Homo sapiens: one gene and its partners. The protein of the gene in region 2 interacts with the protein of the main gene of each other region in a pairwise test. Each region holds a gene or a part of one and is shown on either strand. Other genes may lie near its edges.

Evidence for each region.
Region 1: the proteins of PTPN9 (region 2) and SPAG4 interact in binary tests that used the Homo sapiens proteins (3 or more experiments, as listed by UniProt).
Region 3: the proteins of PTPN9 (region 2) and CMTM4 interact in binary tests that used the Homo sapiens proteins (3 or more experiments, as listed by UniProt).
Region 4: the proteins of PTPN9 (region 2) and PLIN3 interact in binary tests that used the Homo sapiens proteins (3 or more experiments, as listed by UniProt).

The regions. Positions count from the first base shown.
Region 1 is NC_000020.11:35,617,905-35,622,341, reverse strand, and holds the end of SPAG4 (sperm-associated antigen 4 protein), read right to left. Parts: intron 4,256-4,437; coding exon 4,212-4,255; intron 3,893-4,211; coding exon 3,867-3,892; intron 3,731-3,866; coding exon 3,622-3,730; intron 3,420-3,621; coding exon 3,344-3,419; intron 3,148-3,343; coding exon 3,032-3,147; intron 2,764-3,031; coding exon 2,596-2,763; intron 1,659-2,595; coding exon 1,569-1,658; intron 1,467-1,568; coding exon 1,320-1,466; 3' UTR 1,248-1,319; downstream 1-1,247. UniProt on the Homo sapiens protein: Involved in spermatogenesis. Required for sperm head formation but not required to establish and maintain general polarity of the sperm head. Required for anchoring and organization of the manchette.
Region 2 is NC_000015.10:75,463,290-75,471,960, forward strand, and holds part of PTPN9 (tyrosine-protein phosphatase non-receptor type 9), read right to left. Parts: intron 7,562-8,671; exon of another isoform or gene 7,542-7,561; coding exon 7,391-7,541; intron 6,711-7,390; coding exon 6,503-6,710; intron 5,695-6,502; coding exon 5,480-5,694; 3' UTR 1-5,479. UniProt on the Homo sapiens protein: Protein-tyrosine phosphatase that could participate in the transfer of hydrophobic ligands or in functions of the Golgi apparatus.
Region 3 is NC_000016.10:66,693,036-66,701,963, forward strand, and holds the start of CMTM4 (CKLF-like MARVEL transmembrane domain-containing protein 4), read right to left. Parts: upstream 3,709-8,928; 5' UTR 3,491-3,708; coding exon 3,305-3,490; intron 1-3,304. UniProt on the Homo sapiens protein: Acts as a backup for CMTM6 to regulate plasma membrane expression of PD-L1/CD274, an immune inhibitory ligand critical for immune tolerance to self and antitumor immunity. May protect PD-L1/CD274 from being polyubiquitinated and targeted for degradation.
Region 4 is NC_000019.10:4,856,821-4,865,491, reverse strand, and holds part of PLIN3 (perilipin-3), read left to right. Parts: intron 1-4,080; 5' UTR 4,081-4,097; coding exon 4,098-4,163; intron 4,164-5,467; coding exon 5,468-5,666; intron 5,667-5,819; coding exon 5,820-5,902; intron 5,903-8,671. UniProt on the Homo sapiens protein: Structural component of lipid droplets, which is required for the formation and maintenance of lipid storage droplets. Required for the transport of mannose 6-phosphate receptors (MPR) from endosomes to the trans-Golgi network.

The DNA of each region.
Region 1 (4,437 bases), on a different chromosome or scaffold from region 2:
AAGTGATTTCCTGCCTCAGTCTCCCAAGTAACTGGGACTACAGGCACATGCCACAACGCCCAGCTAATTTTTGTATCCATGTTGGCCAGGATGGTCTTGATCTCCTGACCTCATGATCCACCCTCCTCAGCCTCCCAAAGTGCTGGGACTACAGGCATGAGACACCATACCAGGCCGAATTTCACTTCTTAAAAGTATAAACACTATTAATAGTCTGTATATTCTTCTAAAGCATGAGCACATTGGGAAGGTGTTAATGCCTACATCTTATTTTTTTGTAGGAGCGTACCCGTCTCTTATTCATGGAGATTTGAATCCCAGTTTTTTTCAAACAATGCTATAATGAACATCTTTGTACATGTATCTTTGTGCACTTAACAGGAATGTTTCTGAAGAATTTGTTCCTAAAAGTGGAAGTGCTAGATCAAAGGGTATATTTAAAATTTTACCAGATACTGCACATTGCCCTCCAAGATGGTGCATGTTGTGCGTGTTGCTTTGCTCATGCTGGTCCTCCTTTCCTACCCCTAGGTAGAACTCATTAATCCTTTGTTGCCTTCTCCTCCATCTTTTTTCCCTGCAATTCCACTTTCGACCCTTAGAGTGAAGAATTCTTGGATCTGTAAATGCATTGTCCTGTTTCCTGGAGTCTCTTCTTTCCCCTGTCAGGCTCCTTGAGGGCAGGGACTGGTGAACACTAAATCATCTATGCTGTGCCTCACACAGAGTTGGGAACTCAGGTCTCAGTAAGACAACCTATGTAGGGGCTACCAGGCCTGCATCAGCTCTGTGACTCAGAAGCTTCCTAGAGGTTATCAAGTCTCCTTAGCTTTTGAGTGTGTGCCTGCAGAAGGTGGGTAGCTACCCCTCCACCGGTACCTAGCAGGAGTTGGGGACTTTCCCACTGGGGCTGGGAATTGAGCACAAAGGTGGGTTCAGGCTGCCTGCAGCTCTGCAGTTAGAGGACTGGCTCTGGAGGAAGGTGGGCCTGGGTACTGCTCTGTCACTGCCTTTCACTAGCTGTGTGACATTGAACAAGTTTCCTGACCTGAGCAGCTTCCCTTTCTGGTTGTGAGAATGAAGTTAGGTAATGTGTGTAATGTCCACAGCACTGTTTCTTGTACGTGGTAGGCACTCCATAAACAGGAGCTGCTATTACGATCTTGATCAAGACTTCTCCAAGAAAAGAGGGTGCATTGGGAAGTCAGCCCCTCCATACTTAGATGCAACGGCAGCCAGAGCTCTCCCAACAGAGCCCCCGAAAGCACTGATCCAGTATCCTTCAGCAGAACTCAATTCTACTCCAAAAATCAGCATGTTTAATGGGGCCCCTGTGCACTGCCCTCTGCCCCCTCTGAGGTTCGCACACCGTGGGCACGGACTCGATACAAGCACGTGAAACGGGGGTGGCCCCAGTTGCTTAGAATCTGGATCTTCACCTTGGGAAAGGCAGCTGGGGGGTCATTCTGGGGAGACAAATGGATCATGCCAAGGGCTGCCCTCCTCCTGGATCATTCATCCCTCACTGCCCCACTCCCTTGGCACCTTCACCCTAGAGACAAACACACCTGCAGGTGGAAAGTCTGAATCTCCGATTTCTCAACATCGAAGGTGAATTTCCCCAAGGAAACTTCAGTTTCATCATAAACCTGGAGGCCCTGGTGGGTGAAGAATGAAAGGAGGAACTATGAGGGGGACAGGTGGGGCGGGGGGGGCGGGGAGAAGAAAACTTTGCTGAGGATCTTCTGTGTATTCAATAGCTATATGCATGTTCTCATGTATTTTTTGATGGTCGTACACTGTAATTCAGAATGTGGGCTCTAAGAAACCAGGTTTTATTTATTTATTTATTTTGAGACGGAGTGTTGCTCTGTCACCCAGGCTGGAGTGCAGTGGTGAGATCTTGGCTCACTGCAAGCTCCACCTCCCGGGAAGAAACCAGGTTTTAAATTTAATCCTGCCAACTGTTAGTTGTATTACCTTGGAAAAATAACTTCCCCTCTCTGAGCATTACTTTCTTCATCTTTAAAGGGGGAGATAACAGTACATCATAGGTTGTTATGTGGGTGCAAAGCAGGCACGGTGGCTCATGCCTGTAATCCTAGCATTTCAGAAGGCCGAGGAAGGCGGATCACTTGAGGTCAGGAGTTTGAGACCATCCTGGCCAACATGGTGAAACCCCATCTCTACTAAAAATACAAAAATTAGCCGAGCATGGTGGCGCACGCCTGTAATTCCAGCTACTCGGGAGGATGAGGCACAAGAATCGCTTGAATCCTAGAGGCTGAGGTTGCAGGTGAGCTGAGATGGCACCACTGCACTCCAGCAGCCTGGGTGACAAGAGCGAGACTGTCTCAAAAACAACAGCAAAATAAGAATGCCTGTAAACTGCTTGGCACGGAGTAAGTGCTTTGCAAGCAATAACTAATATCTGGATATGGTTATGACTATAACCTACAGCAGCTCTGAGAGGCAAATAGTAGTATCTTCATTTTATAGATGAGCAAGCGAAGACTCAGATAACGGCACCAGTTCTCAAGACTGCTTGGGCTCTCTAGGCAAAATCCCCCACCTCCTGACCTCGTCCGCACTCACAAAGACCGCGAAATCGCGGGGGGCGCTGTTGGCTCCTCCGGTGTGCTCCACGCTGGGCGGTGGATGCTGCAGAGTGATGTCGCTCAGCTGCACTCGGCCCGGCAGTTGGATCACCACCTGGCCTTGGTCGCCTTCAAAAGCCCAGCAATTCCCAGGGAACACGTGGGGCTGCAGGCGGGCGGAGGGACCATCGGAACCGTCGGACAGAGCGACTGCTGCCGCTCCCCAGCCCGGGCCTCAGCTCGACCCCATCCATCGACCCGCCCAGAGCTCCACCTCCAGCCCGCCCCAGTCCCCAGCAATGCCAGGTCTCTCCTTGAGTTAAACGCCATCCTCCACGCCCTCGGCTCAGCCAAGCTCCGCCTGTAGGGCGGGGTTTTGGTGCTTTTCCCAGCGTCCCGCCCGGGGTCCCATCCCGGGATGTTTCCAGACTCACCTCCAGGATAACCGTGGGCGGCCGTGCGTAGTTCCAGAAGCTGAAGCGATTCCAGAAGTAGGCAGTGTTCCTGTCTGCGTAATCGTGGGATGTCTTCTGCAGGTCGATGGAGGCTCCTGGAACAGTGAGAAGTAACCCTCAGAGGCTCCCAGGCCTTGCCGGGAGTCGGGGCGCGGGGGCGCGGGGGCTGGGGGCGGGTGGGGGCTGTCCGAGGCTCTGTCTTCGGCCGGTCAGGTGCATGGGTCTGTCTGTGTCAGTGTCTTGGCCTCTTTCCTGTCTGCGTCTCTGTCTTCCAGTGTCTCCGGGTCTTACCCACAGAGCTCAAAGCATAGTCGGGCTTCCGCACAAAATCCTCATTCAGCCTCTGGAACACGAGCTTGGCCACTCTCTGCAAGGAGGGAGGGCGAGGCCTGGAGGGGCGAGGCTTGCGGGCTGCTTTTACAGGTGGACGGGACCTCTGGGAGCTGGTTGCTTTGGGATGGACTTCGTGGGCACCGGGAGAAATCCCGCAGGGCTCTGGGCGGAGCTTAAGTCTCAGGACCCTGGGAGCAGGGATCCATCAGGGGTTTCCAAGGTGGGCCGGGGCTCACCTCGCTGTTGGCTGCCCGAACAGTGGACACCTCCTTGTGGAGTTTATCCAGCTCGGCCTGGAGCTGCTGCAGCTGCTGCCCCTGGGAGCGCACGCGCTCGTGGTACTCACTGGAGGTGGGAGGTGGGCGCCGTGGGGTTGGCTCCCTGTCCCCCTGGACACCTCCCAAAGGCCCCCACGCCTTCAAGGTTCTCAAAGAAGCAACTTTGAGCCCCCCAATTTCCCACCCTAGGTGCCCTCTTTCACCTTAGAGTCAGCATCTCCTTAGGTTCCTGTTGGATGAAGGGACAAAACACAGAGCCGCTCAGCTCCCGTCGTCCTTGCTCCTACCTCAGCCTGGAAACGGCCAGGGCTTCCTTTTTGAAGACTGTGTCCCCTTTCCTCGACTCCTCCTTGACCTCCCAGTATCAGAGCCCCCAAGAGACCCTCAAGCACAATCCCTCATAAGTCTGTTTATATCCAGCCCTTTCTTAAGGATTGTAGCCTCTGGCACTACCCCCACCCCAGCAGACCGACAGTCCAGGGGACCCCCACAATCTCCGGGTTCACAACCTGCCAACCCCCTACCCCAAGACAGTCTCCCCAACTCACATTCTCCAAAGGAGAGACCAGGTACAGAAGCCCCAGCCAGAATGCTGGAGAAAGAGAGGGAGGGGTCTCAGAAGGAAAAGGAAGAGAATGGGTTTCCCCGGCATAGGGGGACAGTGGAAAGAGGCTTGAGGGGGTTAAGCCTGGGGAGGACCGTGGGAGTCTGAGGGGGAATTAGGGGGTTCTGCAGGGGAATGCCAGGAGCTGCAGGACCGAGGATGTAGGAGAA
Region 2 (8,671 bases):
TCACAGAAGAAAATTCATTAAAAGTCAAGAAAGAGCCCCCAGATGAAATGGCTGACCTTTACTCAGGTGCACATCTGGCCAGTCTTGAGGCTTTAAGACAAACTACGCAGCAGCATTAGAGAAGTAGTAGATTATAATGTGCGGGGAGGGGAGACGGACGTGAGCCTGGAGTCTGAGAGGGGCACTGTACCGTTTTTTCCAACACCCCCAGCTAGGATTCTAGTGGAGTTAGCTATGTCCACCATGGCCTTAGCCTGAAAAATATGGGCATTTAAGACTTCAGCAGGCCACATTTAGCTCAAACAGGAGGATTTTATGACAGCCAAGGTAAAGAAGGGAGATTTAAACATTGTAACAGGTTTCAAGGTGCTAGATTTTTTTTCCCCCAAGAAAACATCTCCAAGTAAAAGTGATATATTTCTATTTGTGGAGAAGATCCTAGTCTTCTCTGTAGTCAATTATGAACAGTGCAGTCTAGAACACTTGATATTCACAAGTGTTGTGTAAAGGTAACTATAGGGCGGATACCTCCTAAGAGAAAAAGATGGTTCCCAGGCTGATGGGCATTTCCATTCCTGCCCTTGGTAGGCTCACAGTGGTTTGTGGGAGTAACCAAGGCCAGAGAGAAATCTAAGGACTAGGTTGGGAGCTATAGGACCCTTGGTCTGTTCATGCTTTGCCTCTGAGAAACCCTGTAGACCCCACATTAAGAAACAGGGAAACTTTAAAGGCCTATAGGCTGGTCTTGGAGATGACAGAGACCTGACCTGCTTTTCCTCCAATTGGAAGGCCAAGGGGGAAGAGAACTGAGGGAAGCTAGGGAAGTAGCAGCAGCTTGAAAGAAGAGACTCTGAAAACACACTAAAACTGGAGAGGCTGGGTGTGGTGGCCCATGCCTGTAATCCTCTCACTTTGGGAGGCCGAGGCAGGAGGATTGCTTGAGGCTGGAGTTCGAGACCAGCCTGGGCAACATAGTGAGATCCTGTCTCTAGAGAGAGAGAGAGAAAAAAAAAAAAAGCTGGGTTCCTGCTTGAGCCCAGTTGTTGAGACTGCAGTGAGCCATGATCATGCCACTCCCCTCTAACCTAGGCAACAGAGTGAGACTCTGTCTCTGAAAGTAAAAAAAATGAAAAGTGGGGAGTGCTAGTGGGAGCCAACTCAACCCAAGTAAAGGCCTAATAGCTCCTCTATGGGTGTTTGCACTGTCTAACAAAGAACTGGACCCTGACAGTCAGAGGACCCATGGTAGGATCATCTAGTGTAGCCCCTTCTTTTACAGAGGGAACCTAGGACTTGGGTTTGGTTCAGTGGTAAGACCTCAAAACCACAAAAGAGCTGGGTCACTCTAGAGAAGCTTTTCTACTTGGCCAATGCCTCTTGGCCCAATTCCCTCTAGGTCTCTGATTTATAAAAGTTTTTGTATGTGTGTCTGTCTGTCCCAAGAGACAGGAAGCATTCCTTTCAGGGAAGGAACCAAATTTCCCTAGGGCTATGATGCTAAATAGTCCATTCTCCCAAGAACAAGTCCTACTCTGTCATTTACCTGCATACTGTCACATGAAGACTGATAAGGGTGGGCCTCCGAGGCTGAGGATGCTGGGGCACCCTTCGTCTCAGGAGTCCCATCCTAGCCAATGAGGATGGGCAAGATGAAGGGAGCAATGGGAAAAAGGACACAGGGATTATCTCATGTTTGAAAAATTATATAGCATGGGAATGTTAGAGAAAGGTGAAACAAACAGCCATCAAATCAGAAGCAGAAGCCTGCTTTAGCTCAGTGTTTTCTTCTTTCCTGAACACTGTCTTTCTTTTTTATTTATTTATTTTTTTTGAGATGGAGTTTTACTCTTGTTGCCCAGGCTAGAGTGCAATGGCGCGATCTCGGCTCATTGCAACCTCTGCCTCCCAGATTCAAGTGATTCTCCCATTTCAGCCTCCCGAGTAGCTGGGATTACAAGCACATACCACCACACCCGGGTAATTTTTATATTTTTAGTAGAGATGGGGTTTCATCATATTGGTCAGGCTGGTCTCAAACTCCTGACCTCAGGTGATCTGCCCACCTCGGCCTTCCAAAGTACTGGGATTACAGGCATAAAGCCACTGCACTTGGACCCTGAGCATTTTCTCTTGCTTTGTTCACTAAGTCTCCTGTATGAGAACCCTGACTTGCCAAACAGATTCTGGGTTGCGTCTCTGCCTTCCCTTTCCTTTACCTCCTCCTTTAACACCTAACACAGGTAGGTTCACGCTGGTAAAAGCTACAAACAATGGCAGTGGGAGGAGTTCCTCTGAGTTTTACTGAAAATTTAGGAGACATCAATTTGTTAACTCTCTATAGGGTCAGAAACATGAACTAAATCTATGGTTCCCAAACCTGGATAATCCTGTCACTCACTAACAACCTACTGGATGGGCCCAGAAATCAGCATTTTATGGAGCTGAAGTGATAGATAACCTCACCAGTCTTCAGATATGCAATGAGGAACTCATGCATAACCTTAAATTCACAGGGCAGTCGGGTTACAGCCTCTTCAAATAAATGACAATTTAAAGTTACCTCCTCCAGGCCGTTTATCATTAATCCCATTTCTTACATGTTCCACCAAACCCCTGACCTCTCTGGTTTCTCAGATTTCCAAGAATCTCTGTTCACTTCTTATGTTTGTGCACTCCCAAGAGAATGGAGGCTCATCTGGAGAAGGAACTAGATTAATCTTCTGCTCTACACTTGAGCTCCTGATTATGGTAAGAAACTCGATAAAAATTTATTGGCAGATCAGAAGATGGATCCTTAGAGGAAGTCTAGTGTAAGAGGTGAAAGAAGATACTTTGGAGTCAGATGGTCTGGGATCCTGGCTGTAGCAAATTAACATTCCTGTCTCTCAATTTTTTTCTTCTGTCAATACCTACCTCAAAAGGTTGTTGAGGGTGAATGAGATGATACCTAGAAATTACTCTGAACAGTGCCTGGAATAGAGTGAGCATCCAGTAAATTGGCTGCTATGACTATTATTAAGAACACCCCAATATTTCCCAGCCACAACTGCCCCAACTGGGCAGGCCATCAACAGCCAACAGGTATGATATGGGGAGTGGTCTTCCATGTACAAAGCTTCTGGTTCCTTTCTTTCTAAGAGATAAATGCAAATGACTCAAGATCTTCTCACAAAGACCATGTACCCATAGATATGGAGTCTCCTGGGGAGAATGATAACCCCTTTGGTACGCTGCAGACATGAGGACCCTACATCAGGAGGTCCTAGCTAGGACAGTCAGTCACCAACCCTGTCACCCTTCGCGTCTACTACATGAAGCATGGGCACAAGAACAACAACCTGGAATTTAAGAACTTTTTTTACTCTGAAAGGAGAGCTAAACAAACCTCTGTTCTCCAAACACAAGATCTCCATCTTCCATGCAGTGAAGAGACCACAGGCTTTGTAAGCAGACCAACTTGAGCTCGTTTTAGAGCAAATCACTGTAACCCTCTGGACCTCACCTTCCTCATCTATATAGAAATGAGAAAGGGGTGCACAGGAGAAGGGAGAGAAGATAATATCTCACTGAATTGTTGTGAGGTTTGAATGAGGCAGGGTGGGGGAAAAGCACCTAGCATAGTGCTTAGCACATCTCAAGCACTGAACTGGTGCTGGTCCCTCTGTCCAGAGATAGGGCCATGGCCTACAGACAAGGTGAACTCATAGTGTCAGAACTCAAAGTCTCAGATACTGAAGGCTTGGGTCCCTCCCTGCCTCCCTCATCCCTCCCAGACCAGCTCCTGGACCCCCTCCCTCATGTCCCAGGCTGCTAAATTGATGAAGCTAAAAGGGTTTTGATCATGTCGGTATATTTATATGTAAATACAAAACTGTATCACTGTAAGATATTGAATATGAACATTACAATTATTTTCTGAATCAGACTCAGTCCATTGATATTAAATACAAAATGAAATGATTGTAAAAAATAATAATATACACATTCAAAGAGCTTATTACAGTATAAAATTATTGAGGTCTGATCAGCTGCCAACCTCATCTTCTGTCACAGGGGAAGGTTTAGGAGTTCCTGGGATTTTTTGGGAATGTGGAGTGCTGAGGACTCTTGATTTATCCCTAGCACATAAGGATGAGTGGGCTGGGAGCAGGCAGGGACAGGTTGGGTGGGTAGGGGACAAACAGTGATTGCAGGGGACCACCTCACTCAGCCAGGGGGTGAAGCTTTTTATTGACACAGAACCCACCCAGTTTGAGGGTCTAGCAGGCTAGCAGGCAGGAAGAGATGGGCATCTCGGTAGACAGGGCCAAGCTGCATAAAGGAACCATCCAGCAAAAGAAAAAGGGCCCCAGCTCATCCTCCCAGGGAGGTATTTTCTTAGTGGTTTTTTCTTTCTCATACCTGGGCTCCCCCTCCTTCCTTCTAAGATTCGTACCGATTGCATTTGGCTCTGGCTGCTCAGTGAGTTCATCTCTACCCTCCGCCTCCCATCCCTGGGATAGTGAAAGCAAAGAGAGAGTATGGAATCACAGTGGAGGTCTGTTCCCCAAATTGGCCAAGTAAATGTAGAAAAATCATCGGATAAGGGAAATCCATGCTGAGCTAACCCAGTGTCACCACAAACTAATACATTCTTGGCTCCAACAGGTGGCAACTGGAAGGAGATAAGTCATTACTTAAGGAAGGGGCCCTGTGGCAGGAACATGGAGGAGATGTGTGTGTGTCCTCTTCCACCACTCTGTAGCCTGACAAGAGGAGACATGATCACCAACCCAAGCTAGTCCAGGATAAATAGTAGGGTCCAAGAAGCAAGGAGTCCTGAACTGCAACACGGAGCCCCAGGAACTTCTGGAAAGGAGTATCGTGTGTATATGTATTTATAGAATACGATCATATTATCACATACAATATATATTATATACACACGTACATATGGACCCATACACATAAGTGCACACACACACACACACAGAATGACAGAAAGGACTGGAATACACGCCCTACTTATAAACGTGCTTGGCACTCAGGACGATCTCTAGAATATGTAACTTGGTCAAGCTCTCTGGGGAGAAAGGCAAATGCTCATCAAACCTCCCCATAAAATCCTAGGAAAGGGAAGGAGTGGGAGACAGGAGACCTCAGAAAAAGAATGGCGGGAGAAAGGAGGAGGGAGGTTCCTTCCCCACTTACCTCGGGGACCCTAGCAAAAATCAATAGCCACAATTTGGTTTTAATAAGGCACAGTTTGATAGCAGATGCTAGGAATTAAGAACACATTGCTACTGGCCCTTTCTAGTGGCAATTTCACCACATTTATCTAGCCAAAGGGAAAGGCTGCCTTGCGTGCACACGTGTGCTGGGAGACACAAGAAAGAAGTTGATCCATGGCTTCAGCGTAACTGATGGCAACCTATAGGCTCAGCGGTGTCCAGGGTAGTTTAAGGAAGGCTGGCCAACAGGTAGGAGGTTCGTAGGAGAGTTACTGACTCTCCACGGCCAGCAGGTTTTGGCCAGAGGATACCATGCCCTCCTTCTCTGCGAACTCCAGGATGGCCTTGTAGCAAAAATAGTACTGCTCAGGGGTCTGGATGCTGAAGGCCCTCTGGGTCCTCATGCGTGACACCGTCTGGAACACATTAAGGGTGCCAAGCTCCTCCAGCTGTGCCAGGCAGATGTCCAGTGAGCAGAAGGTACCTGAAGAAGGAAGGAAGTGATCACATCTGGTTTACCTCTCTTCTCTTCCTCCCTCTACCAAATAACCCAGGCAGAACTGAATGAATGACTTCACAGGCAAAGTGCCTCATGGCAGAAGGCCAGGTGGCCTTAGGCCTGAAAGGACTCAAGAAGGAGGTCACAGGGAGTGTTGGAGGCCAGAGAAATGAGAAGGCCTCTTATTTCTCAGGACATACACTTGGGGTAACAGGAAGTGGAAATGGGAAGGTGACACAGGGGAACTTCCTGCTTCAATCCCAGACAGACAGACTGACAGCACTCCCACACCTAATTTCCAGAGTCCACAAGTTTTTCAGAGGCCTAACAAAAACCTATTCTCAACTTTCTCCCAAAGGGACCTTTGAAATAGAAAGGCCAACATTTCCTACCATGTACATGCCCTTAAGGCAAAAGCTGCTAACTGGCTCCAGAATGGAGAACACAGCACAGGGTGGGGAGTCCCTCCAGGGAGGGCTGGATGGGAAGGAAGCAGCAGCCCAGCTGAGCTCTCTGGGATACCTGCAGTGACAGTTCTAACAGGTGACAGAGTCAGCGTTATGATGGGGTGTATAAAACATCAACCCCTAGAGGACTTGGCTTGTGAAATATATATTCTGGCCATCACTTGGTCCACCAAAAGGACATTAGATGAGGGATTTTTCACAGCAATTCACCACCAAGGGAGCAAGTGAGTTCCTTCTCCAATCACAGATGTGGGCTAAGAGCTTTGTTTTTCCTCGTCCACCCCTACTGCCCCTGCAGACACCAAGAGCTGCATTAGGTGCGTTACCTGTCCTGCCAATGCCTGCACTGCAATGGACCACAATGGGTGGCTCAGGGCACTGCCCTTTGGAGCGTGCTCCCATGTTGCTCACAGCCAGACTCTGCTGGTTTCTGACCACTCTCAAGAAGTCAATGAGGGAAGCTGCTGAGGAAGGGACACCATAGTCTGGCCAGCTCAAGAACTGGAAGTGGGTCACCTGGCGTTTCTGCCGTTCCTTAGATAAGAAAAGAAGTAAACGTTAACAAGGTTATTTCTGCCTGCCCCTAGCTACCTCTGGCTTTTCCAGATTCTCAACACCCTGGTTATCCCTACCACCAAGGCTCCTATCCACCACTGTCAACTTTTCCCATAATTGCTTCTTTACTACAAACCCAAAGGAAGGGTTGGTTAATTGGAAAAGGCAGAATTCCTATACTGTAAGATCCAGAATTTTTTTTGAGACAGGATCTCACTCTGTTGCCCAGGTTGGAGTGCAGTGGCACGATCAAACTTACTGCTGCCTTGACCTCACAGGCTTGTGCCACCATGCCCAGCTAATTTGTTCTATGTTTTGTAGAGACAGGATCTCACTGTGTTGCCTAGATTATCTTGAACTCCTGGGCTCAAGTGATCCTTCCACCTCTGCCTCCCAGAGTGCTGGGATTATAGGCCTAAGCCATTGCACCCAGCCCCAGATTTCTAAAATTATAAGCTTTACTCCTATTTAATGTTCCTATCGTGCTGCAGTAATATGGCTATATTGGCTGTGAGTTAAATATCCTCATCCTGTCCCTAGAAAAACAGAAGCAACTCATAACTTCCCTGGTATCCTACCTATTCCCTCTGGAGATTTTCATTACAGTAATTATTCTCCCCCTGTTTCAACAAGGTGAGAAAAAAGAAACCTGGATTTACCTCTGTGTTGTGAATTTCTAGCGTTGTTTTCTTATAATGATTCATGTTCTCCACGCCTAGATTGGTCACTGTGAGGAAGCCAAATCGGATCCGAGAGTCTTTTTCTAAAGGCCAGTACTGGCCACACTTTCTCCTGCCGCCTTCCTCAAAGCTGAAGACACACAGAGCAAGGTAAGCCTTCCATCGTTCCTCTCCACAGCAGTAACCTGGCTTCCCCAAAGACCTGATATACCCCCAGGCAGCAATATCATCTCTTGCATTGCTTCTAACTTACACCATTGATTCTCAGCAGAAAGGAAAGGAAACCTCTTCATTCTAAACAAATGTACTCACAGCTAAAGTTTCTGCATGTACTCATATAGCAGACAGTTACTGAGCACTTACTACAGCATTTGGTCTTTTTCCTAATACGCAATAGTACGTCTCACATATGTGGGATAAATACTGGGTGAACAGAGACAAAAACAGTATAGTAGCTGGGTATAGTGGTGCATGCCTGTAATCCCAGCTACTTGGGAGGTTTAGGCAGGAGAATCACCTAAGACCAGGAGTTTGAGACCAGCCTGGGTAACATCATGAGACTCCATCTCAAAAAAGAAAAAGAAAAAGAAAAAAAAAGAGTAGAGAAAATATGAAAATATGATAGGTCAGAGAGAACTCTCTGATAAACTGATAAACACACATCTACTGGTATGTTAGCAGGAGGTTTGTGTAAAAGCCTGAAGTCCCAGCCCAGGCAACATGGAAACCCTATCTCTACTAAAAATACAAAAATTAGTCAGGCATGGTGGTGGGTACCTGTAGTCCCAGCTACTTAGGAGGCTGAGGTAGGAGGATTGCTTGAATCCAGGAGGTTGAGACTGCAGTGAGCTGAGATGGCACCACTGCACTCCAGCCTGGATGACAAAGTGAGACTCTGTCTCAAAAAAGAAAAAAAAAAAAAAAAAAGGCCTAGGCCAGGCGCAGTGACTCATGCCTGTAATTCCAGCACTTTAGGAGGCCAAGGTGGCGGATCACCTGAGGTCAGGAGTTCGAGACTAGCCTGGCCAACACGGTGAAACCCCATCTCTACTAAAAATACAAAAATTAGCCAGGCATGGTGGTGGGCACCTGTAATCCCAGCTACTTGGGAGGCTGAGGCAGAATAGCTTCAACCTGGGAGGCGGAGGTTGCAGTGAGCTGAGATCGCACCACTTAAGGTTGCAGTGAGCTGAGATCGCACCACTTAACTCCAGCCTGCACAATAGAGTGAGACTCTTGTCTCAAAAAAAAAAGGCCTAA
Region 3 (8,928 bases), on a different chromosome or scaffold from region 2:
CAACATGACGAAACCCCGTCTCCACTAAAAATACAAAAATTAGCCAGGCATGGTGGCAGGCGCCAGTAATCCCAGCTACTCGGGAGGCTGAGGCTGGAGAATTGCTTGAACCCAGGAGGCGGAGATTGCAGTTAGCTGAGATGGTGCCATTGCACTCCATCCTGGGCATCAAGAACAAAAGTCTAACACAAAGAAAAAAAAAACATACACACCACTAAATTTATTTTTAGACATGGGATCTTGCTACGTTGCCCAAGCTGGAGCACAGTGGCTACTCCGAGGCACCATAATAGCTCCCTGTGACCTTGAACTCCTAGGCTCAAGCAGTCCCCCCACCTCAGCTTCCTGATTTTTAAAAGTCAAATTTTTCTCCAAACCGCAGAGTTAGAACTTACTCATATTTCTTGATGGATTCTGAGTTTTGTAACATCTCAGAAGTATCTTCATAATGACTTCTTATTTTCTTTTCAGTTTAAATTTAGAGTCCAATTTCTTGGAGTTTTGTGGGATTTTCATCAAGGCTGGGAAGCCAACTACACCAAAACCATTTGAAGTTGCCATACCCTTCAAGCAGGTCCCTTTCCTTTACTCACCCACATATAACCTCTCAGAGTTTAAGTTCTAGAGATTAACAAACAACAGAGTTAGGCGAGATTCTGGGGGCTAGGCCCAAAAGTTCTTCCGGATGAAAAGTACAAATCTAGGCCAGGCGTGGTGGCTCACGTCTGTAATCCAGGCACATTGGGAGGCCGAGGCGGGCAGATGACCTGAGCTCAGGAGTTCGAGACCAGCCTGGGCAACATAGTGAAACCCCGTCTCTACCAAAAATACAAAAAATTAGCTGGGCATGGTGGTGTGCGTCTGTGGTCCCAGCTACTTGGGAGGCTGAGGTGGGTGGGTCTCTTGAGCCCAGGTGGCGGAGGTTGCAGTGAGCCAAGATTGTGCCACTGCACTCCAGCCTGGGTAACAGAGTTAGACCCAGTGTTTAAAAAAGAAAGAAAAAGAAAGAGTGAGAAGAAAGAGAGAGGGAGAGAGCGCGAGGGAGAGAAAGAGAAAAGAGAAAAGAAAAGAAAAAAAGAAAAGAACAACGCTACAACAAAACAGTACCTTACCAAAAAGTAATGATAAATGCCACAGGCTTCCATCCCTGGACTTAGGTGATAAACTCCTAGCAATGCAGTAATAACTAACAGTCTACAAACTAGATTTCAATTCTTTTACTAGATCCTTTTAGGGACAAGTTCTATTTACTTTCAAACTCCCACAGTGCAAACAAAGCAAGGTATTTGACCAAGCCCTGCTCTTTTCTTATTCATTTCTAATTATCTGTACGGGCTGCTGGCACCCCATACTCAAACATTGGCTAGCTGCCTCTTTTAAAAGGCAATTGCAGGCAGGGTGTGGTGGCTCACGCTTGTAATCCCAGCACTTTGGGAGGCCGAGGTGGGCGGATCATAAGGTAAGGAGTTCGAGACCAGCCTGGCCAGGCCAACACAGCAAAACCCCGTCTCTACTAAAATTACAAAAATTAGCTGGGCGTGGTGGTGGGCGCCTGTAATCCCAGCTACTCGGGAGGCTGAGGCAGGAGAATCGCTTGAACCCGGGAGGCAGAGGTGGCAGTGAGCCAAGATTGTGTCACTGCACTCCAGCCTGGGCGACAGAGCTAGACTCCATCTCAAAAAAAAAAAAAAAAAAAAAAGGCAATTGCACACCTCCCTTCACCTCCTACATTCTCTTTGCTAACAGCAACGCCAAACTAAAAACCAATGCATCTTTGAAAACATTCCAGTTTACCAGATAAGGTAAATTTAAAATTCTGAAGACAGATTATCTGATCCATTTTTCTTTCCATAAAGCCCTTCAAAAATACCCTCTGGCAGTCAGCAGAACAAGCCTTTCACCCAAGAGAGACATAAAATAGCCTATGATTCTGTCATTTACAAACGCCAGGACATTTATTTAAAGGGTATCCACACATTATATTATTCCCAAGGAATGCTTATGCACTCAAGTAGGAAAAGGAGGACCAGGCCTGGCACGGTGGCTCATGCCTGTAATCCCAGCACTTTGGGAAACCAAGGAGGGGTGATCGCTTGAGCCCAGTAGTTGGAGACCAGTCTGGGCAACATGGTGAAACCCCATCTCTACTAAAAATACAAAAATTAACCCGGCATGGTGGAACGTGCTTGTAGTCCCAGCTACTCGGGAAGCTGAGGTGAGAAGATCGCTTGAGCCTGGGAGGTCGAACCTGCAGTGAGCCACGATCGCACCAGTGCACTCCACCCTGGGCGACAGAGACCCGGTCTCAAAAAAGAGAGAGAGAGAGAACAAGAACAAGTGGCTTCTCTGGCTATGAGAAGTCTATAAAGTTTTGAGGCCGGTGGCCTCAGAAGGCCTACCTGTGACAGAGAATGTTGGGGGGACACACGGGTTTTTCTGAATTAGAGCATGCCCACAACAGAGCTAAGCAATTGCCCGCAGAGGCATGTTACAAAACCACAAAGCAGGAACAGAGCTGAGAGGCCCCTGCCCAGAACACCCTGGAAGCTAAAACACAGGACCCTGAGAAATGAGCTCTACTACAGACAAGTCCAACAGAAAGTTCTCTGTTTCTGCTACCTCCAAAACTGGCTGCCCTCCCAGATTTAACTCTGGGTACCAATTGGGCAGTGCCAGCCACCGTGCTGGGCGGTGGATTCCGGGATGCCAAGTCTGTCTTCTTGGTTAGAAGGACACAAACCTCTGCAGTGTAGAGAATTGTGGGCATATCTGGGCTCCTCCACTGCATCAGGGCTACCTGCCTCCATCCAGCAAATACTTACTAAGCGCCTACCATATACGCCTGGCACCCAGCTAGACATCAAGTGGGAACCAAACCACAGTCCCTCGTCTCCGCAGGCAGAAACAGGCACCGTCCGGAGGTTGCGCGGGCCGGGAAAACCTGCCACAGGTTGCTAAGACCAGCTGTACCCAGGAGACAGCAGGATTCCCAGCAGCACCCAGCCCAGTAACGCCACAGACTCCCGGGAGCGAGGGCGGAGCGGACAGGTAGGCCCGAAGGCAGGTGCTCAGGTAGGAGGCGCACACCTGAGGCTGCCGGCCTGGGAAGGGCAGGCTCTGGCCGAAGGCGGGGTCCCCAGAGAAGGCTGCAGAGTGGTCCCGGGACCCCACGAGGGAGAGGGGGCGCGAGGAGCGGGCTCCGGCCTGGGCAAGCGGGTACGCGGCGGAGGCCCCGCAGCGGGGCGGGGAGGGAGGCGTGCGGCTAGGCCGCCCTCGGGCACCTGGGGCCCCGCCCGGCACCTACCACTTGGGCGACCTTGAGGCGGCCGAGCGCGCCGCGCAGGTAGTCGGGGTCGCAGCGCAGGCCGGCCAGCCCGCGGCGCTGGCTCACCGGCTCGGTGGTGGGCTGGTACGGGCTGCTGGCGCCCGAGATCATGGAGGTGCTCGAGGCCTCGCCCTCGAAGCCGTCCAGCTCCTCGCCGCTCCGCATGCTGCCGCCCGGCCCGGGCCGCCTCGCGCGGCTGGCTCCCGGCGCCAGGAGCGGGCGGACTCAGCGGGGCCGCCGCATCGCCGCCGCCGCCGCCGCCGCCGCCGCCCGACTGACTGCCCGCGGCCCGCCCGCCGCCGCCGCCTCTCGCCCGCCGCCCGGCTGCGGCTGCGGCTCGGTCCGCTCGGGCTCGGCTCCCGCCGCCTCGGCAGCGGAAAGGGAGGGAGGTGGGAGCCAGGAGAGGGAAGGAGGCGGGAGCGGGCGCGCCGGGCCGGGAGAGGCGGAGCCAGGCCGCAGCCGGCCGCTCGGAGGCGCTCCGCGGCTCGAGCGAGGTGGAGGCGGCGGCGCCGCGGGCCTCGGGGAGGGGCGGGGCGAGGCGGGGCGCCGGCTCCTCAGGCCCCGCCCTGGCCCCGCCCCCACCTGCGCCTAGAGCCGGGGCGGGAGCCGCTGGTGGGCGCTGGCGATCCCGGCACGCGGGGCGATGGGGTTCAGGCAGCGGGGTCTTGGGGCTGAGGAAAGGGTCGAGGTGGACCTGGAGGCCATGGAGTTGCTTTCCCAGACGCTGCCTCAGGTTCTCCTTTGAAGAAAGTGGGGTCCTCGACGCATAGGGTGGGGAGCTTCTCGGTAAAGACAGAGACGGGCTGCGCCACCCGGGTGCCGGGAACGGTGCGTGGCCAGGGTGGGCTTGACTCAGACTATTGGGCCGACGAGAGGTGGGTAAGTGCCTGTGTTCTCACGCTGGGCGCCTGGAACAAACCGGTTCCGAGGCCAGGGGCGGGCGGGGCAGGGTGAGGAGCCGCCCCACTGCAGGTTGTCCCCGCCGGCCTGACCCAGGCGACTGACATGTTCCTCTCCTCTCAGCTGAAAAGCTTTGCTAGCTCTGTCTACGCATAAAGTAAGGTTAAACACAGATTTTGCCCCGAAGGGCATTAATTAGGGACCAATTTACAATTCAAGTGTGAAGGCTAATTTTAAGCTAAGTAAAACACTGACTAAGAAGTGTCGCTTTGATATTGAACCCTTCCACAACCACAAATACCGAGAGCTTGCCATGTTCTAGGCACTGAGCAAGGCGCTTGAAGAACGTATCGTTGTTATTTCTATTTTACAGAAGAAGAGACTAAGGCTGCAGACTGGAAGTAGCTTGTCCAAGGTCACACAGTTCATTGGTGGGCAGAGCCCAGGTTCCTACTTTTTCTTTTTTTAAAAAAAAGTTATTTATTATTTTCATCATCATTATTTTTGTAGAGATAGGGCCTCACTGTGTTGCCCAGGCTGATCTCGAACTCCCGGGCTCAGGGGATCCTCCTGCCTCAGCCTCCCAAATTGCTGGGATTACAGGTGTGACTGACCATGCCCAGCCCTCAACTTTTTCAAAGATAGGAAGGACAGTGACTCTAATACTGTTGTCCTTCTGTATGGGGGCAAGAGAGGGAGCTTGTTTTCAGGACCCCCTCAAATACCAAAATCTGAAGATGCTCTCAAATCCTTTATATAAAATGGTGTAGTATTTACATATAACCTACACACATCTTCTCGTATACTTTAAATAATTGTTCTACTGTATTACTTTTTATCTATATTTTTGTGTGTGCGTGTGTGTGTTGTTTGGGGGTTTTTTGTGTGTGTGTTTTCTGAGACAGAGTCTTGCTCATCACCCAGGCTGGAGCGCTGTGGTGAGATCTCTGCTTACAGCAACCTCCACCTCAAGCGATTCTCCCACCTCAGCCTCCCGAGCAGCTGGGACCACCACGCCCAGCTAATTTTGGCATTTTTAGTAGAGACAGGGTTTCACCATGTTGGCCAGGCAGATCTCAAACTACTGGCCTCAAGTGATCTACCCACCTCAGCCTCCCAAAGGGCTGGGATTACAGATGTGAGCCACCGTGCCCCACCTGTTTTTCTGTTTTGTTTTGTTTTGTTTGTTTTTAAAATAGACTTTTCACTCTGTCATCCAGGCTGGAGTACAGTGGTACAATCATAGCTCACTGTAACCTCGACCCCCTAGACTTAAGCAATCCTCCTGTCTCAGCCTTCTAAGTAACTGGGACTACAGGCATGCCACCACCATGCCTGGCTAAATTGTTTTTTCTTTCTTTTTTTTTGGAGATGGGGTCTCATTATGTTGCCCAGGCTGGTCTCAAACTTCTGGTCTCAGCAGTCCTCCCACTTCAGCCTCCCAAAGTGCTGGGATTACAGGCATGAGCCACCACATCCAGCTTATTTTTTATTGTTTTTTCCAAATAATTTTTTTTTTTGAGACGGAGTCTCATTCTGTCACCCAGTGGCATGATTGCTGCGCACTACAACCTCCACCTCCCAGGTTCAAGCAATTATTCATGCTTCAGCCTCCTGTGTAGCTGGGATTACAGGTACCGACTAACACGCCTGGCTAATTTTTGTGATTTTAGTAGAGACGGGGTTTTGCCATGTTGGCCAGGCTGGTCTTGAATTCCTGACCTCGAGTGATCTGCCCACCTTGGCCTCCCAAAGTGCTGTGATTACAGGCATAAGCCACTGTGCCCAGCCTATTTTATTCCAAATTTTTTTTTATCAGCAGTTGGTTGAATCCATAGCTGCAGAAACCACAGATATAGAGGACTGACCCTAAATCAACAAATATTTATTGGGCACTTACTATGGATTAAGCAATATACTAAGAACTTGAGATAGACAATGGTGCTAGACGGTGGTGACATTGAGTGGTTGGATGTAGACTCTTGCCTCTGCTTTCTCCCAAAATCCCAGTGAAATGACAGTTACAGGGATTTTTTTGAGGGGGTGGGGTTGGGCATTAAACTGTTGGGATAAAGAATGGCAAAGGAGGCAGGGCACCATGGTGCATGCCTGTAATCCTAGCACTTTGGGAGGCTGAGGTGGCAGTTCACTTGAGGTCAAGAGTTCAAAACCAGCCTGGCCAACATGTTGAAACCTTGTCTCTACTAAAAATAAAAAAAAAAAAAAAAAAAAAAAAATTAGCCATACATGGTGGCGAGCGCCTGTAATCCCAGCTACTCGGGAGGCTGAGGCAGGAGAATCACTTGAACCTGGGAGGTGGAGGTTGCAGTGAGCTGAGATCACCCCACTGTACTCCAGCCTGGGCTACCAAAAAAAAAAAAAATGGAATGGGAAAGGAGACAATGGCAACAAAATGTTGGAAGCTGGGAAGCAAATGGGCAACTGTAACTTAGCAGATCCAAGAAAGCCAAACCCTAAACTGGCAGGGGAAAGGCTGAAATATTATGCAGCACAGGTTATATCACAGAACAAAAGGCTCAGGAATGGGCAGCACCAAGTAAGTGTAGAGTTAGGGGGTGAAGGCAGGAGTAATAAACAAGAAGAGCAAGTGAAAGTCTTTTAAAGAAGCAAGTGGATCCCTAGATCCCTTTTCACACCCATCCCCCAAGACTGGAGCTTTGTTCTCTGGAGAGGGTGAAACAGAAGGCCTCTTAGTTAGAGATCACTAGGCACAGTTCAGGGAAGGAATACTGTACTAAAAACAGGTGGAGTAAGTGAAAGTTTGCTTAATGAATGAGACCCCCAGACATCCTTCCCGAGATCATGGTAGCCAAGACCTCACATTCTCTCTGGAAAACATGATTAGCACAAGAAGAAAGACCCAAAGATCCTGACAATGGAAGTACCCCAAAGTGGAGCCCAGCCAGATCACCCAACACAGAATCCCACAGTTGAGACTTCTCACCTACAGGCACAGAGCTTCCAATGAGCTTTTGAGGACTCTACTTTGAAATATAAATGACAACTAAGAGTCACCAAACATTTGAGGAAAGCCTATAACATAACAGAGGTCAAAACGAAGAAAAAGATATGTCATTAAATGTTTACAATGGTATATATATGTGTGTTCATATATATACCATTTTATACACATGTATATATCAGTATTCTCAGGTAAACTGAGAAGATACTGTAACCATAAAAAGTTTAGAATAAGGCTGGGCATGGTGGCACATGCCTGTAATCCCAGCACTTTGGGAAGCCGAGGTGGGTGGATCATTTACAGTCAGGAGTTCGAGACCAGCCTGGCCAACATGGTGAAACTCCATCTGTACTAAAAAAACAAAAATTAGCCCAGAGTGGTGGTGCATGTCTGTAGTCCCAGCTACTCAGGAGGCTGAGGCAGGAGAATCGCTTAAGCCCGGGAGGCAGAGGTGGCAGTGAGCCAAGATTGTGCCACTGCACTCCAGCCTGAGTGACAGAGCAAGACTCTGTCTCAAAAAAAAAAAAAAAAAAGTTTAGAATAAGGCTGAGTGAGGTGGCTCACGCCTGTAATCCCAGCGTTTTGGGAGGCTGAGGTGGGCAGATGGCTTGAGCCCAGGAGTTCGAGACCAGCCTGAGCAACATAGCAAGACCCCATCTCTATTAAAAAAAAAAAAAAAAAAAAAGTTTAGAATAAGATGTTACCAAAAAGGAATATTCAGAGAAAAAAAAAAACCTCTTAGACAAGCACATGAAAATATGCTCAATGTTATTAGTTGAAGGAAATTAGGGAAATGCAAATCAAAACCACTTCATAACTGCCAGGATAGCTATAATAAGAACAACAGGAAATTACAAGTGTTGGTGAGGATGTGGAGAAACTGGAACCCTCATACATTGATGGTAAGAATGTAAATGGTGTAACTGCTGGGTTGAAAGTTTGGCAGTTCTTCAAACAGTTACATAGAATTACTATATGACCCAGTAATTCCACTCCTGCGTATATACCCAAAAGAACTGATAATGGGTGGCCAGGCACAGTGGCTCATGCCTGTTATCCCAGCACTTTGGGCGGCCAAGGCAGGTAGATTGCTTAAGTCCAGGAATTCAAGACCAGCCTGGGCAATATGGCAAGACCCCATCTCTACAAAAAATACAAAAAACTAGCTGGGTGTGGTGACACATGCCTGTAGTTCCAGCTGCTTGGGAGGCTCAGGTGGGAGGATTGCTTGAACCTGGGAGAGGAAGGTTGCAGTGAGCTGAGATTGTACCACCGCACTCCAACCTGGGTGACAGAGTGATACCCTTTCTCAAAAACAGAAAAAAGAAAAAAAGAAAATAAAAGAAAGAAAAAAATTGATAATAGGTGCTGAAACAAAAACTTGTATGAGACATGCCAGACTCCATGATACAGGCCTGTAGTCCTAGCTACTCAGAAGCCTGAGGCAGGAAGAACACTTGAGCCCAGGAATTCAAGGCTGTAGTTTGCTATGATTGCACCTATGAGTAACTACAAACTCCAGCCTGGTAACACAGCAAGACACCATCTAAACAAACAAACAAACGAAACCTTATTTTTATGCCCTTATATAAAAAGAAACACAAAAAAACCTTCTTCATGAAGGTTTGTAGCAGCACTGTCCACAGTAGCCAAAAAGTAAGCACAAGCCAAGTGTCCTCCATTACCCCATGAAACAGGAGTTCGAGACCAGCCTGGCCAA
Region 4 (8,671 bases), on a different chromosome or scaffold from region 2:
TTTGAAACGGAGTCTCCCTCTGTCACCCGGGCTGGAGTGCAGTGGTGCGATCTCGACTCACTGCAACCTCCACCTCCCAGGTTCAAGCAATTCTCCTGCCTCAGCCTCCTGTGTAGCTGGGACTACAGGTGTCAGCCAAAATACACGGCTAATTTTTGTATTTTTAGTAGAGATGGGGTTTCACCATGTTGGTCAGGCTGGTCTCAAACTCCCGACCTTAGGTGATCTGCCCGCCTCAGCCTCCCAAAGTGCTGGGATTACAGGCGTGAGCTACCATGCCTGGCTTTTTCTTTTTTCTTTGAGATGGAGTCTTCCTCTGTCACCCAGGCTGGAGTGTAGTGGCGCAGTCTTGGCTTACTGCAACCTCCGCCTCCCAGGTTGAAGCAATTCCCCTGCCTCAGTCTCCCAAGTAGCTGGGACTACAGGCGCCCGCCACCACACCCGCACCTAATTTTTGTATTTTTAGTAGAGACAGTGTTTCAGTATGTTGGCCAGGCTGCTCTTGAACTCCTGACCTCATGATCCACCCACCTCAGCCTCCCAGCGTGCTGGGATTACAGGTGTGAGCCACCATGCCCGACCCTTTAGCCTCATATTACAGGTAAGATGACCGAGGCCAGAGGAGGGGAAGGCGCCTTGCTCCAGGGAGCATAGCGTAGGTGGAGCTGGGACTCCTGGCTTCCCCCTGAGAATCTCTTCTGATGATGGTGTCCCAGCTTCATTTCACTAGTCCAGGAAAAGGGAGTTGTGGCTTCATCCCGCTTACATAGACTCACCTGGGGAACCCCGTCCTCCCCACACCCCTGACCTGGACTTCATAGCTCTGCGGTGCAGGCAGGCATGTTATCTCACTTTTTAAAAAAAGCCTAAATTTTGGCTGGGTGCGGTGGCTCACAGCTGTAATCCTAGCAGTTTGGGAGGCCAAGGTGGGCAGATCCCTTGAGCTCAGGAGTTCAAGACCAACCTGGGCAACATGGCAAAACCCCATCTACTAAAAAACAAACAAACAAAACAACAACAACAACAAAAAAAAAAACAAACCACGGCTGAGTGCAGTGACTCATCCTGTAATCCCAGCACTTTGGGAGGCTGAGGCGGGTGGATCACGAGGTCAGGTGTTCAAGACCAGCCTGACCAACATAGTGAAACCCCATCTCTACTAAAAATACAAAAAATTAGCCAGACGTGGTGCACACCTGTAATCCCAGCTACTCAGGAGGCTGAGGCAGGAGAATCGCTTGAACCCAGAAGGCGGAGGTTACAGTGAGCCGAAATCACGCCACTGCACCCCAGCCTGGATGACAGAGCAAGACTCCCTGTCCAAAAAAAAAAAACAAAACCACACACACACACACACACACACACACACACACACACACACACACACACACACTAGCCAGGTGTGGTGGTGCGTGCCTGTAGTCCCAGCTACTTGCAGGGTCAAGGTGGGAGAATTGCTTGAGCGTAGGAGACAGAGGTTGCAGTGAGCCAAGATCGCACCACTACACTGCAGCCTGGGCGACAGAGCGGAAATCCGTCTCAAGAAAGAGAAGAAAGTTTGCCCTATTTAACACATTTTATCCCTTGACTAGATCTTTGTTCATGTCATGTCAGTTACATTTAGTCTTTTGTTTGTTTTGTTTTGTTTTCTTTTTTTTTTTTTTGAGATGGAGTCTCGCTCTGTCACCCAGGCTGGAGTGCAGTGGTGCAATACCAGGTCACTGCAACCTCCACCTCCTGGGTTCAAGCGATTCTCCTGCCTCAGCCTCCTGAGTAGCTGGGATAACTAAACATGGAGGCGTGCACCACCACGCCTGGCTAATTTTTGTATTTTTAGTAGAGACGGGGTTTTGCCATGTTGGCCAGGCTGGTCTCCACCTCCTGACCTCAGGTGATCCTCCTGCCTCGGCCTCCCAAAGTGCTGGGATTAGAGGTGTGACCCACCACATCTGGCCCATGTGAGTTACATTTAAATCTCTTTTTTTTTTTTTTTTGAGACAGAGTTTCGCTCCTGTTGCCCAGGCTGGAGTGCAGCGGCGCGATCTCGGCTCACTGCAACTTCCGCTTCCCGGGTTCAAGTAACTCTCCTGCCTCAGCCTCCTGAATAGCTGGGATTACAGGCATTCGCCACCATGCCTGGCTAATTTTATATTTTTAGTAGAGATGGGGTTTCTCCATGTTGGTCAGGCTGGTCTCGAACTCCTGACCTCAGGTGATCCACCCGCCTTGGCCTCCCAAAGTGCTGGGATTACAGGCGTGAGCCACCGCACCCGGCCTTTAAATCTCATTCTTTAGCCACTGCATTGGGATACACTTATTTTTGTTTTTGTGTTTTGAGACGGAGTCTCACTCTGTTGCCCAGGCTGGAGTGCAGTGGCGCGATCTCACCTCACTGCAACCTCCGCCTCCTGGGTTCAAGCGATTCTCCTGCCTCAGCCTCCTGAGTAGCTGGGATTACAGGCGCCCACCATCATGCCTGGCTAATGTTTGTATTTTTAGTAGAGACGGGGTTTCACTATGTTGGCCAGGCTGGACTCGAACTCCTGACCTCGTGTTCCACCCACCTCGGCCTCCCAAAGTGCTGGGATTACAGGCGTGAGCCACTGTGTCTGGCCACACTTGTTGTTTTCTTATTCCCCTTTTGCTGGGCATCCAGGTTGTTTCCAGTGTCATGTTGTGGCCAGTAAGTCCACACAGCTCTGCTCATGTGGAAACACAGGTGTGGGTTCTTCCCCGAAGTGAGGTTTCTGGGTCAAGGGGAAGATGGCTCTTGGAACTTGACAGCTATTGGCAAATTGTCCTCTACAGAGGTTTTAGGTCATACCTGGCTTGCTGGAGTACAGGTGAGCCCTGAAGGGACTGTTCCCAAGCCTTGCTTCCTGACGTGTGTCCCAGGGACCAGCTGCATCAACACTGCCTGGGAGCCTTTTAGAAATGCAGGGTCAGGGCCGGGCATGGTGGCTCACTCCTGTAATCCCAGAACTTTGGGAGTCCAAGGCAAGAGGATTGTTTGAGACCAGGAATTCGAGACCAGCCTGGGCAACATAGCAAGATACCATTGGCCAGGCACAATGGCTCACACCTATAATCCCAGCACTTTGGGAGGCCGAGGCGGGCGGATCACGAGGTCAGGAGATCAAGACCATCCTGGCCAACATGGTGAAAACCCGTTTCTACTAAAAAAATACAAAAAATTGGCCAGGTGTAGTGGCACACGCCTGTAGTCCCAGCTACTGGGAAGGCTGAGGCAGGGGAATTGCTTGAACGTGGGAGGTGGAGGTTACAGTGAGCCGAGATCGTGCCACTGCACTCCAGCCTGGCGACAGAGCAAGACTCTGTCTCAAAAAAAAAAAAAAAAGATAACATCTCTACCCAAAAAGAAAAAATTAAGTAGGCGTGGTGGTGTGTGCCTATAGTCCTAGTTACTTGGGAAGCTGAGGCAGGAGGATCCCTTAAGCCCAGGAGTTAGAGGCTGCAGTGAGCTGTGATTGTACCACTGTACTCCAGCCTGGGTGACAGAGCAAGACCCTGTCTTTAATGAGAAAAAAAAAAAAGAAAGGATCAGGTGTGGTGGCTCACACCTGTAATCCCAGCACTTTGGGAGGCCAAGGTGGGTGGAACACAAGGTCAGGAGTTCAAGACTAGCCAGGCCAATATGGTGAAACCCCGTCTCTACTAAAAATACAAAAATTAGCTGGGCGTGGTGGTGGGTGCCTGTAATCCAGCTACTCGGGAGGCTAAGGCAGGAGAATTGCTTGAAACCAGGAGGCGGAGGTTGCAGTGAGCCCAGGTTGCCCCACTGCACTCCATCCTGGGCGACAGAGTGAGACTGTCTCCAAAGAAAATAAAGAAAAAAAAAAAGAAATAGGGGGCCAGGTGAGCCCCATCCCGAAGCTTTAGAATCAGCACTTGCTATTGAACAAAGTCCAGAGGTCACTCTTGTGCCTGCTAAGGACTGAAAGACACAGCTGTAAGTCATGGGCAGGTGTGAACCCTGTCTTCCAGCTGCAGCGTGGGCCTGGACTTTCTCCTGGAAGGTGGGGCCAGGCAGGCTGTACCTGACTGTTCCTCTCTCCTCAGCGTCTGCTGCAGAGACCATGTCTGCCGACGGGGCAGAGGCTGATGGCAGCACCCAGGTGACAGTGGAAGAACCGGTACAGCAGGTGAGGAAGGGCCGGGACCAGGGACTGCCCCGACCCTGTGATTCCCGTGCAAGGAGGCTTCCCACCCCAGGGTGCCCTGGCAGGGAGCCAGGGATCTGCCGGCAGCTCACGGAGCCAGAGGGATTTATTCCTCAGTGGGGTATGGACCACTCACTGGTGTCCCCAGTTGGGAGGGGGGAATCTCAAAGGCCCTTGGAGGGCCTGAGGGAGCAGGGTTCTGTCTGAAACTACCTGCCCTCCCCAACCCCTGAGCCAAATCATCCTCACCTCTGAAGGCTCTCTCAGGGACGTCCTAGGAGGCCAGTTTCTATTCCAGATCTCTCATCCTCAGGTGATTTTATTTTATGTATATATTTTTGAGATGGAACCTTGCTGTGTCGCCCAGCCTGGAGTGCAGTGGTGACATCTTGGCTCACTGCAACCTCTGCCTCCTGGGTTCAAGCAATTCTCCTGCCTCAGCCTCCCAAGTAGCTGGGGTAACAGGCATGTGCCACCACGCCCGGCTAATTTTTGTATTTTTAGTAGAGACGGAGTTTCACCATGTTGGCCAGGCTAGTCTCAAACTCCTGACCCAAAGTGACCCACCCGCCTCGGTCTCCCAAAGTGCTCGGATTACAGGCGTGAGCCACTGCTCCTGGCCCCAAAAATAATTAAAATTTAAAAATCAAGTGGTGCGCTGGCTGTGACCCATGGGCTGTGGTCTACAGCCCCCGGTTTAGACCCTAACTGCCATGAGAATGGAACTGTTGTCCCTTATCACCACCTGGCACATCGCTGGGATAAAGTGCAGGCTCATGTAAATAGCCTGTGTTCAAGGAAGCACGTGGGCTGAGTGCGGTGGCTCACGCCTGTAATCCCAGCACTTTGGGAGGCTGAGGTGGGCGAATCACGAGGTCAGGAGTTCAAGACCAGCCTGGCCAACATGGTGAAACCCCATCTCTACTAAAAATACAAAAAAATTAGCTGGGCGTGGTGGCACCCGTAATCCCAGCTACTCAGGAGGATGAGGCAGGAGAATCGTTTGAACCTGGGAGGTGGAGGTTGCAGTGAGCTGAGATCGCATCAGTGCACTCCAGCCCGGGCAACAGTGCAAGACTCCGTTTCAAAAATAAAATAAAAATAAAGGAAGCACGTGGCGAAACCCCAAGGTTCCTGGCTTGTGCAACTGCCTGGATGCAAAGTGTGGGTAAACTGAGCCGTTTCACTGGCCAGGAGTAAGAGCAAAACTGCAGGGCACCCTGAGTTTCCGGCTGAGCTCCCCATCTTCCCCCACCCAGTTTGCCTGAGCCACTTCTCTCCTGTAGCCCAGTGTGGTGGACCGTGTGGCCAGCATGCCTCTGATCAGCTCCACCTGCGACATGGTGTCCGCAGCCTATGCCTCCACCAAGGAGAGCTACCCGCACATCAAGACTGTCTGCGACGCAGCAGAGAAGGGAGTGAGGACCCTCACGGCGGCTGCTGTCAGCGGGGCTCAGCCGATCCTCTCCAAGCTGGAGCCCCAGAGTGGGTGAAGTCCCAGGGGGCACTGAATTCCCCTCCTGGTCATTTCCCTGGGTGGGGAGTAGGGGGGTCTACCCAGCTCTTGGTCCTGTCCCCCTGAACCATTACTAGGTGACCTTCCAGCAGTCACATTTGCGTCTTAATTGTTGTTGGCAGTTGCATCAGCCAGCGAATACGCCCACAGGGGGCTGGACAAGTTGGAGGAGAACCTCCCCATCCTGCAGCAGCCCACGGAGAAGGTAACGATGTCCGTCCTCAGGGGCTCTGTCGAGACAGGGACCTACCTGGGTGTGGAGTGCGCTGGTCCCAGCTTAACTAGACAAGCTTGATGGCATCCTCCCTGCTGCCTCTCCTGTCGGTTCCCATCCCCACCCCGAATCCACTCCCCACAGGGTAGCTGGAGGAATAATTGCAAAGCCAGCCAGATTACAGGCGCCTGCAACCATGCCCATCTAGTTTTTGTATTTTTAGTAGAGATGGGGTTTCACCATGTTGGCCGGGCTGGTCTCGAACTCCTGACCTCAGGTGATCCAGCTGCCTCAGCCTCTCAAAGTGCTGGGATTATAGGAATGAGCCACGGTGCCCAGCCCACTTGTTTTTATAATAAAGTTTTATTGGCACACAGCCATGCCCATTTATTTACATATTGTCTATGACTGCTTTCACCCTACAATGGCAAGGTTGAGTAGTTGTGACAGAGACTGTGACCCACAGTACTGAAAATCTTAGTTACGTGGCCCTTTACACAGAATGTTGCCACCTCCATAACTTATTAGTCAGAAAAGGTTGGCGGCAGGAAAGTCAAAACATCAAAACACCATGTTCCTGGCCGGGCGCGGTGGCTCATGCCTGTAATCCCAGCACTTTGGGAGGCCAAGGCGGGAGGATCACCTGAGGTTGGGAGTTTGAGACCAGCCTGACCAACATGGAGAAACCCCGTCTCTACTAAAAATACAAAATTTATCTGGGTGTGGTAGCGGGTGCCTGTAATCCCAGCTACTCGGGAGGCTGAGGCAGGAGAATTTCTTGAACCCTGGAGGCGGAGGTTGCAGTGATCCGAGATCATGCCATTGCACTCTAGCCTGGGCAGCAAGAGTGAAACTCCATCTCAAAAAAAAAAAAAAAAACCAAAAAAACACCATATTCTGGCCAGGCGCGGTGGCTCATGCCTGTAATCCCAGTACTTTGGGAGGCTGAGGTGGGCGGATCACAAGGTCAGGAGATCGAGACCATCCTGGCAAACACAGTGAAACCCCATCTCTACTAAAACTACAAAAAAAAAAATTAGCTTGGCGTGGTGGCGTGTGCCTGTAGTCCTAGTTACTCGGGAGGCTGAGGCAAGAGAATCACTTGAACCCAGGAGACGGAGGTTGCAGTGAGCTGAGATCGCGCCACTACACTCCAGCCTGGGCGACAGAGCGAGACTCTGTCTCAAAAACAACAAAACAAAAAAAACACCATGTTCCAAACTGTGTCCTGCCCCTCAGCAGCTGGGTGGCCCTCACACAAGTTACTTTGCCTCTGTGGGCCTCACTTTTTTTTTTTTTTTTTTTTTTTTGAGACGGGGTCTTGCTCTGTTGCCAGGCTGGTGTGCAGTGGTGCAATCTCGGCTCACTGCAACCTCCACCTCCGGGTTCCAGCGATTCTCCTGCCTCAGGCTGCTGAGTAGCTGGGGTTGCAGACGTCTGCCACCACGCCTAGCTAATTTTTGTATTTTTAGTAGAGACGGGGTTTCACCAAGTTGGCCAGGATGGTCTCAATCTCTTGACCTCGTGATCCTCCCGCCTCGGCCTCCCAAAGTGCTGGGATTACAGGCATGAGCCACTGTGCCCGGCCCCCTCTTTTTTTTTTTAAGATGGAGTTTCGCTCTTGTTGCCCAGGCTGGAGTGCACTGGTGCAGTTTCAGCTCACTGCAACCTCCACCTCCCAGGTTCAAGCGATTCTCCCGCCTCAGCCTCCCGAGTGGCTGGGATTACAGACATGTGCCACCACACCTGGCCAATTTTTGTATTTTTAGTAGAGATGGGGTTTTACCATGTTGGTCAGGCTGGTCTCGAGCTCCCGACCTCAGGTGATCCACCTGCCTTGGCCTCCCAAAGTGTTGGGATTACAGACATGAGCCACCAGGCCCAGCCTGGGTCCCACTTTCTTTTCTACAGAATGGCAATGCTGACCTGGGGTTAACACCTGAAGGCCCAGAACAGCACATGGCTTGTAGCAAATGTTGGCTCTTAACATTAAAAAAAAAAATTTTTTTTTTGAGACAGGTTCTCACTCTGTCACCCAGGGTGGGGTGCAGTAGTGTGATCATGGCTCAACTGCAGCCTTGAACTCCTGGGCTCAAGTGATCCTCCCATCTCAGCTTCCCAAGTAGCTGGGACCACAGGCATGCACCACCATGCCTGGCTATTTTTAATTTTTTGTAGAGACGAGTTTTCACCATGTTGCCCAGGCTGTTCTCAGACTCCTGGGCTCAACAGATCCTCCTGCCTCAGCCTCCTGAGTAGCTGGGACTAGGTGCATCCACCACGCCTGGCTAATTTTTGTACTTTTTGTCAAGACGGAGTCTCGCCATATTGCCCAGGCCGGTCTCCAACTCTTGGGCTCAAGCAATCCTCCTGCCTCAGCCCCACAAAGTGCTAGAATTATAGGAGTGTGCCACTGTGCCCTACCTCAGTTTCCCTTAATCACCGCTTTTTAAAGACCCTGTCTCTAAATACAGCCACATTCTTACCCCTGGGGATCAGGACTTCAACATAAGAATTTGGGGTTGAGGGGGCCATAATTCAACCTATAACAGCCTGGGATGAAAAAATGAGGCACAGACCAGGCGTGGTGGCTCACGCCTTACTCCCAGCACTTTGGGAGGCCGAAGCGTGCAGATCACTTGAGATCAGGAGTACGAGACCAGCCTGGCCAACATGGTGAAACCCTGTGTCTACTAAAAATTCAAAAATCAGCCAGGCGTGATGGTGAGTTCCTATAATCTCAGCTACTCGGGAGGCTGA